2 linked regions of the Homo sapiens genome follow. Changing the gene in region 2 together with the main gene of any one other region gives a genetic interaction. Each region holds a gene or a part of one and is shown on either strand. Other genes may lie near its edges. The genes, in order: RB1 and MED13.

Region 1 (3,831 bases), on a different chromosome or scaffold from region 2:
TTGGAAATCTCTAGCATATAGAGCCCCTTAAAGGCTAGGAATGGATGAGATACTAGGAGAGTTATCTTCTATCTATCTTCTCCTAGACAGAAAAGAGAACATTAGTGTACTTAATACAAAGAACACAACATCAGACCATTAAGACTCTTAACAACTAATTTATTTTAAAATAGACAAACTATTAATTGTAGAAAATAGTAACATAGCAATTTTAAATGTACAGTTTTAACCAATACAAAAAAGCAATAAAGCAATAATATCTGAAGCATTATTTAAGAAATCTCAATACACGATCTCTGAAGTTCCTAAAATTCTGGCACTAATTCTAATGTGAACTTAGTAGCAAAAGACCCAGAAATAGTAAGCCCTTGACCTAAAAACTAACTGATTTGTATGATATTCATGCAGAAACAATGATGAAATGGAGTCAAGTTTTCTAGTGTCATTGTTATCAAAATAACTGTCAAAATAGTAAGTTTGAAACTTAAATGAGCACAAAATAAAATTTTGTTTTCTAACAAGACCAGATTTCTTTTTAAAAATAATTCTGAGTTAGACAAAGTGATTTTCCTAAAAGCTAGCTGAAGCTACCTTAAATATCCCCTATTTTAAGTTACAGCATCTCTAAATAAGTTAATCACACAAGATAGTTTAAATACACCTTTAGGTGTAGGGGAGGGGAGAAGCGCCTCTTTTTCTAATGCAGCTGTTTTAATTTGAAGCTTTTGCACAAAATCAGATAGAAACATTAATGCCTAACCCATAATGACCCTTGATTACTTGTAATTTTGGACTAGAAATAATGTGGCTTTGAACATGCCAGTGTTAGACCATACTGACTTAAAAAAATAAAAGATAAATAGACAATTGCCAGTTCAAAAGATACATGGAAGACATGTACCATTCCAGAGAAAACACAAACCTTCCCAAATTAAGGAGGGCAGAATAATTTTGAGATGCAATTAGACAAATCTCTATGAAAAAAAAATTAAGGCTCCTATAATTAACAGTCTGTTTATGGAGTAAAATTAATTTGTATCTTAATTCTTCAGGACCCAGAAACATTAGAAAGTGCACTTGGGATATACTGTGTTAGGGTCCTCTATACCTAAGATCTGGCAGAACACTTTACTTTTTCAAGTACTAGATGGGTACTTTATAAATTCAGTGATCTGAATGGTATAAAAACCAAGAGTACTATCAATAATCCTCATTTAAAAACATAAGTTGGATGAAGAAAATAATCAGTAAGTTCTTTTACATTCTGAGGTATGAAATCTGTTTCAGTAGTATGATAGTATCATATGGTTATACTTTGCTTCCAGCTTTTATTTAATTAAAAGCAAAATTTTATAAAACAAGCACACAGTATATCAGATTCCAATAGTAAAATAAAATCTAATGTGTAAAATTAGTAATTTTTTTCTAATTTCTAATAATATCCATTTTTGCAGAAGAGTTCAGGATAATTTTGGTGAATGGGCAGTCAATCAAATTGCATTTGGAAGATAGATAGGACACATTTTCTAAGGGTGTTCATGTTAAATTAAAAAAATATACATATAAATTAATAAAAACAAGAGCAAACATCACCTATATGCTACAAAAGAAGGCAAAGTAGTCAGACAGGCCTGGGTTATCAGGACTCCCACTCTAGGGCCATTCTTACTATCCATAAAGCACAGCAATTTTACTTTGGAAGAGGAAACAATCTGCTACAACTTTTTAAATGGCAGGATTTACACAAGATTTTCAATCTTGTATAAATAACAATGACTAACATTTCAAGTGGCTTAGGAATCACCCAAACAATTGCATCTGCACATTTTATATCCACAAAAAGAGCTGAAGATATTAAATGTGGCCATAAACAGAACCTGGGAAAGTTATACAGTCACATCTGTGAGAGACAATGAATCCAGAGGTGTACACAGTGTCCACCAAGGTCCTGAGATCCTCATTTCTCTTCCTTGTTTGAGGTATCCATGCTATCATTCATTTTCTGCTTTTGCATTCGTGTTCGAGTAGAAGCTGGAAAAAGGATGAAGAACTGTTAACAGCATTGATGGTACTGGGTAAGTTGGCAAGTGGCTGCCATATATATTATGCTCATGTCAAACTGATGGCGCTCAGGACCTTGCAAAAGCAGTGGTCTTCATTCTAGTATTTGACAGTACCGTAGGGAGTTACAGTTAATTTACTGCATATTTCAAAATAGCTAGAATTGTAATGTTCCCAATGCAAAGAAAAATGTTTGAGGTGATATATATCCCAATAACCCTGATTTGATCATTACACATTGTGTACACGTATCAAAACATCACATGTACCCCTAAAATATGTATAACTATGATATATCAATTAAAAAAAAAATTCCCTCCCCACCCCCCAAAAAAACAGTGGTCTCCAAATCTTTAAAAATCATATATCCCTGTGAGTAAATTTTTTTCCAAGCCTGTACCACAAAAATACGTATGTATGTACAAATTATAAAACACATACCCCAAGCAAACATTAAAATGAGATAAATAGAACTTCTACTTTATGTACCCCAAAAGATGACTTTGCATACTTCAGGTATGCCCCATTTTGTAGGCCACTATTCTAGAGATGAGGTGGTTGATGCTTGGCATATACTTCAGCAGACTAGAATACTCGGCTGGCCCAGACTGAATCTGCCAGAGTGAGTGGTGGTATTCTTTACAAAGCTATAGGTTCCCTTATGTTTGCAGATGCCTTGCAGGTACTGCAAATACATCAAATCATAGCTCATTTAAACTGGGCATGGATTTTTTTTTTTTGAGACAAGGTCTTGCTCTGTTGCCCAAGCTGGAGTGCAGTGGCATGATCATGGCTCACTACAGCTTTGACCTTCTGGGCTCAAGCAATTCTCTCACCTCAGCCTCTCCAGTAGCCAAGACTACAGGCACATGCCACCAGGCCTGGCTAATTTTTGGATTTTTTTGTAAAGATGGGGTCTTGCTATGTTGCCCAGGCTGGTCTTGAACTCCTGGCCTCAAGCAATCCTCTCACCTTGCCCTCCCATAGTGCTGGTATTACAGACATAAGCCATCATGCCTACCCGGGGCATGGCCATGTTAAAAGCATATTATGAATTACAATATAGACAAAGCCGGGATACTTATTAAATTTCTTAAAAATTCTTAACTTGATTTTAGAGGTAGGCATGAGTTCTTTATAAAGAAGCACATTTGGAAAAATGGAATGCCCTTCCATTCTGGGCAATCCAGCATTGTATGATGATCTTTTCTAAATGTAATTCTTTAAGAAAAGCTGAAGAGCATCCTAAAGAAATGCCTTAGCCTCAGGGGTTAAAATTCTGCCTGCTTTGTCACAATTTTGTAGATGCACAAAGGTCCTGAACTTTGGCCTGGCAGAGGAAGCTCGCCATCATAGCTAAGTGTGTCACTGGGAAATGTACTAACTATAGCAACTGAACACTTCTCTAAGAAAATATACATGTTTTTACAGCTTTCAGCTCCTTTTTAAGTGCATATTTGTGGGTTCCAAAATGTTTCCATATGTCTTCAAGGCCTGATTTTGGTTATGAGCCTCTTGTCTATTTTCATGTACTGAGGGGAAAAGATGCAACTATTTAAGAGTTAAAATAGGAATATGTAAGTTGACATAAAATCCAAAAAGAGATTCATTTATAACTAGAAAATTTTGTTTTAGTTATTTAGTTTTAATTACACTTTAAAAAAATACATAGAAAAAAAGCATCCTTTTAAATATCTTATTTTCAAAGTTAGTATCTACAAAGATGTATTAAAAGAAAGCCTCTCATTTTAATTGGTATTGTTCTCATTA
Region 2 (3,831 bases):
GAGTAGCTGGAATTACAGGCATGCCCCACCCAGCTAATTTTTTGTATTTTTAGTAGAGATGAGGTTTCACCATGTTGGCCAGGCTGGTCTCAAACTCCTGGCCTCAAATTGATCTGCCTGCCTCAGCCTCCCAAAGTGCTGGGATTACAGGTGTGAGCTACCATGTCCGGCCTCTTATTACTGGGTTTTAAGTTAAGGTTAACCTTACTTCTGTGTATTTTGAAAGTATTGGTCATTTTCTTTGGAGGAACTTTTTCCTTTTAATTTGGAGGCTTACCAAATAAATTAATCTGGAGTCAGTGATTAAGAAATATTTTATATCTTTCAACACTAGTATGTATTTGGCTGTATCACAGATTCAAAATACTACTTTTAATGAATGGGCTTTACTGTTAAGTTATATCTGAATGATTACTATTTTGAGATCACATTGGATGTAAAATTTTAGATAAATATGTGCTTTTTTTAAATAGCCTGGATCTAAAAAATCAGCAAATGGATCAGATGATAAAGCCAGCTGCAAGGAATCAAAGACAGGAAATCTGGACCCGTTATCTTGCATAAGTAAGCTTCCCTCATCTGTGCTCGAGATAAATTTGCGAACTTTTAATCTCAACAAAGCTCCCCACTCCTTTTGGTTTAAACACAGATTCGCCTATTTTTAGTCATGTTAAAATGTATGTTTTTATTAAATATAGGCACTGCAGATCTTCATAAAATGTATCCTACACCACCATCATTGGAACAACATATTATGGGATTTTCCCCAATGAATATGAATAATAAAGAATATGGTAGTATGGATACAACACCTGGAGGAACTGTTCTAGAAGGAAATAGTTCTAGTATAGGAGCGCAGTTCAAAATTGAGGTTGATGAGGGATTCTGTAGCCCCAAACCTTCTGAAATTAAAGTAAGTATGTTTTTTCTAGAAAAATAATTCACTTCCTATATTTTCTTATAGAATTAATTTGTTGCTATAGTCAAAAATTATTTTATAGTGGTTGCGGTTTTGTAGCTAAGTTGAGGACTGAATTATTGTTGTCACTATTAAGAATGCATTTAAGAAAATAATAGAATTGTATTTAGATTTTATTCTGTTTAAAGAAAGGAAAAAAGGTCCAGAGCCTGTTTGTTTATTTATTTTTTCCTCCTAGAAGATAAGATACTGAAAACCTACCATCTTTATATTGTAGGATTTTTCTTATGTCTATAAGCCTGAAAATTGTCAAATTCTAGTGGGATGTTCCATGTTTGCACCTCTAAAAACTCTACCAAGCCAATATCTGCCCCCTATCAAATTGCCAGAAGAGTGTATTTACCGTCAGAGTTGGACTGTTGGAAAATTGGAATTGCTTTCTTCAGGGCCTTCAATGCCATTCATCAAAGAGGGGTATGATTTATGTTGTTACAATAGTATGTGACTGCTTATACAGCTTTAATTTTTTTTTCATAGATTTACCTGGTATGCTGGAAAAATAAAATTGGTTTTTGAAAATTCTAAAAATTATTTCTGGTTAATCAATTATAGTGATTGGCTGGGAGCAGTGAATCACGCCTGTAATTCCCATACTTTGGGAGGCCAAGGCAGGCGTATCCCTTGAGGTCAGGAGTTTGAGATCAGCCTGGCCAACATACGAAACCTCGTCTCTACTAAAAATACAAAAATTAGCCAAGCGTGGTGGCGCATGCTTGTAGTCCCAGCTACTTGGGAGGCTGAGGCACAAGAATGGCTTGAACCTGGGAGTCAGGCATTGCAGGGAGCCGAGATCGCACCAGTGCACTCCAGCCTGGGCAAGAGTGAGACTTTGTCTCAAAAAAAAAAAAAAAAAGGTTAATTGGGTATGGATAAACTATTAGGAAACTTAAGACTATTATGCTTGATTTGTATTCCGAAGCACCTTTTCTTTTGGGCTGCAATTTTAAATTGCTCCCATTTTTACATTTGCCATCTTTTCCACACTTTTCACATTTTAACATCTCTGACTTGGTCAGTTTCAACTCAAGGCTAAAAGAAATCTGAATCTGAGATGTCTTATAAGTGGTAGCATTTTAAAATTACCATTTTTCCCTTTTTACACATGAGCATCTCTAAAATCATTTTTCTTTTTTTATAGTCAGTAGCATCTTAGAATCAAGGAAATATAAGTATTTCTAGTAAACAAAATTTATAGATAGTAAATATGGATGTCTAGGTATGCATTAGTGTATAGAGTGCTTATTAATGATTTTTGAACTTGTTAATTGATCCTTAGTCAACAACAATCACTTAGAGTAGATATGTTAACCAGAAATAAGAATTGACTGTGCTTGTAATTCTTGCAATACTTGTCCTTTCATAATTTTCTATGTAATTGAAAAACATTTGGGACGTTTTTAGTTGTATTTCACATTACTAATATGTTCCTTTATATATATATTTGATCTTCTTTTACCCTGGTGATGATAGTGATGGAAGTAATATGGATCAAGAATATGGCACTGCTTATACACCTCAAACTCATACTTCTTTTGGGATGCCTCCTAGCAGTGCACCTCCTAGTAACAGCGGAGCAGGAATTCTTCCTTCTCCATCCACCCCTCGGTTTCCAACTCCAAGGACTCCAAGGACTCCTCGGACTCCTCGTGGAGCTGGTGGACCTGCTAGTGCTCAAGGTTCAGTCAAATATGAAAATTCAGACTTGTATTCACCAGCTTCTACCCCATCTACATGCAGACCCCTTAATTCTGTTGAACCTGCAACTGTCCCTTCCATCCCTGAAGCACACAGTCTTTATGTAAACCTCATCCTTTCAGAATCAGTTATGAATTTGTTTAAAGACTGTAACTTTGATAGTTGTTGCATCTGTGTTTGCAACATGAACATCAAGGGTGCCGATGTTGGAGTTTACATTCCAGATCCAACGCAGGAAGCACAATATAGGTGTACCTGTGGCTTCAGTGCTGTCATGAACAGAAAATTTGGAAACAATTCAGGATTATTTCTTGAAGATGAACTAGATATCATAGGACGCAATACAGACTGTGGCAAAGAAGCAGAAAAACGTTTTGAAGCTCTCAGGGCTACCTCTGCTGAACATGTTAATGGAGGACTAAAGGAATCTGAAAAATTATCTGATGATTTGATATTATTGCTACAAGATCAGTGCACTAATTTATTTTCACCCTTTGGAGCAGCAGACCAAGATCCTTTTCCTAAAAGTGGTGTAATTAGCAATTGGGTACGTGTTGAAGAGCGTGACTGTTGCAATGACTGCTACCTTGCATTAGAACATGGGCGTCAGTTCATGGATAACATGTCAGGAGGAAAAGTTGATGAAGCACTTGTGAAAAGTTCATGCTTACACCCCTGGTCCAAAAGAAACGGTAAAGTATGCCAATAAAATACTTTTTTGTTTGCTTATTTCCCTTTAGTTACATTCTTAGGAAAAAGTAATAAAGGCAGTTTCCCATGTGGCAAATACATTTAAAGTTGGACTTAAAACTCTTTATGGATGATGTTTTTAAAGGGAGAATTTCTTAGCAGTTTAGTTTAATTTCACCAATAAAAGTATGGTTATTATAAATCTGTAATTATATACTTATGTAGGAATATGAAAGGCACATTCCATATATTTATTAGCATAACATTGCTAGTGGTCTGCTTTATTCAACATTCTTTCACTCATTAAGTATTTACTGGGCACCTTGTATGTGCCAGGTATTAGCCTAGATTCACTGTTGAACAAAGCACACATATTCTTTGCCCTTTTTGAATCTATAATTTAGTGGAGAAAATAGGAAATAAACAAAAAAGCATATAATAGATAGTAAGAAGTAATTTGGAGGAAA

The links.
Region 1: changes in MED13 (region 2) and RB1 together harm fitness more than expected from each alone (negative genetic interaction), as found in Homo sapiens cells (one large-scale study listed by BioGRID).

The regions. Positions count from the first base shown.
Region 1 is NC_000013.11:48,478,198-48,482,028, reverse strand, and holds the end of RB1 (retinoblastoma-associated protein), read right to left. Parts: intron 2,051-3,831; coding exon of another isoform or gene 2,032-2,050; coding exon 1,958-2,031; 3' UTR 139-1,957; downstream 1-138. UniProt on the Homo sapiens protein: Tumor suppressor that is a key regulator of the G1/S transition of the cell cycle. The hypophosphorylated form binds transcription regulators of the E2F family, preventing transcription of E2F-responsive genes.
Region 2 is NC_000017.11:61,981,733-61,985,563, reverse strand, and holds part of MED13 (mediator of RNA polymerase II transcription subunit 13), read left to right. Parts: intron 1-473; coding exon 474-564; intron 565-698; coding exon 699-913; intron 914-1,196; coding exon 1,197-1,393; intron 1,394-2,449; coding exon 2,450-3,366; intron 3,367-3,831. UniProt on the Homo sapiens protein: Component of the Mediator complex, a coactivator involved in the regulated transcription of nearly all RNA polymerase II-dependent genes.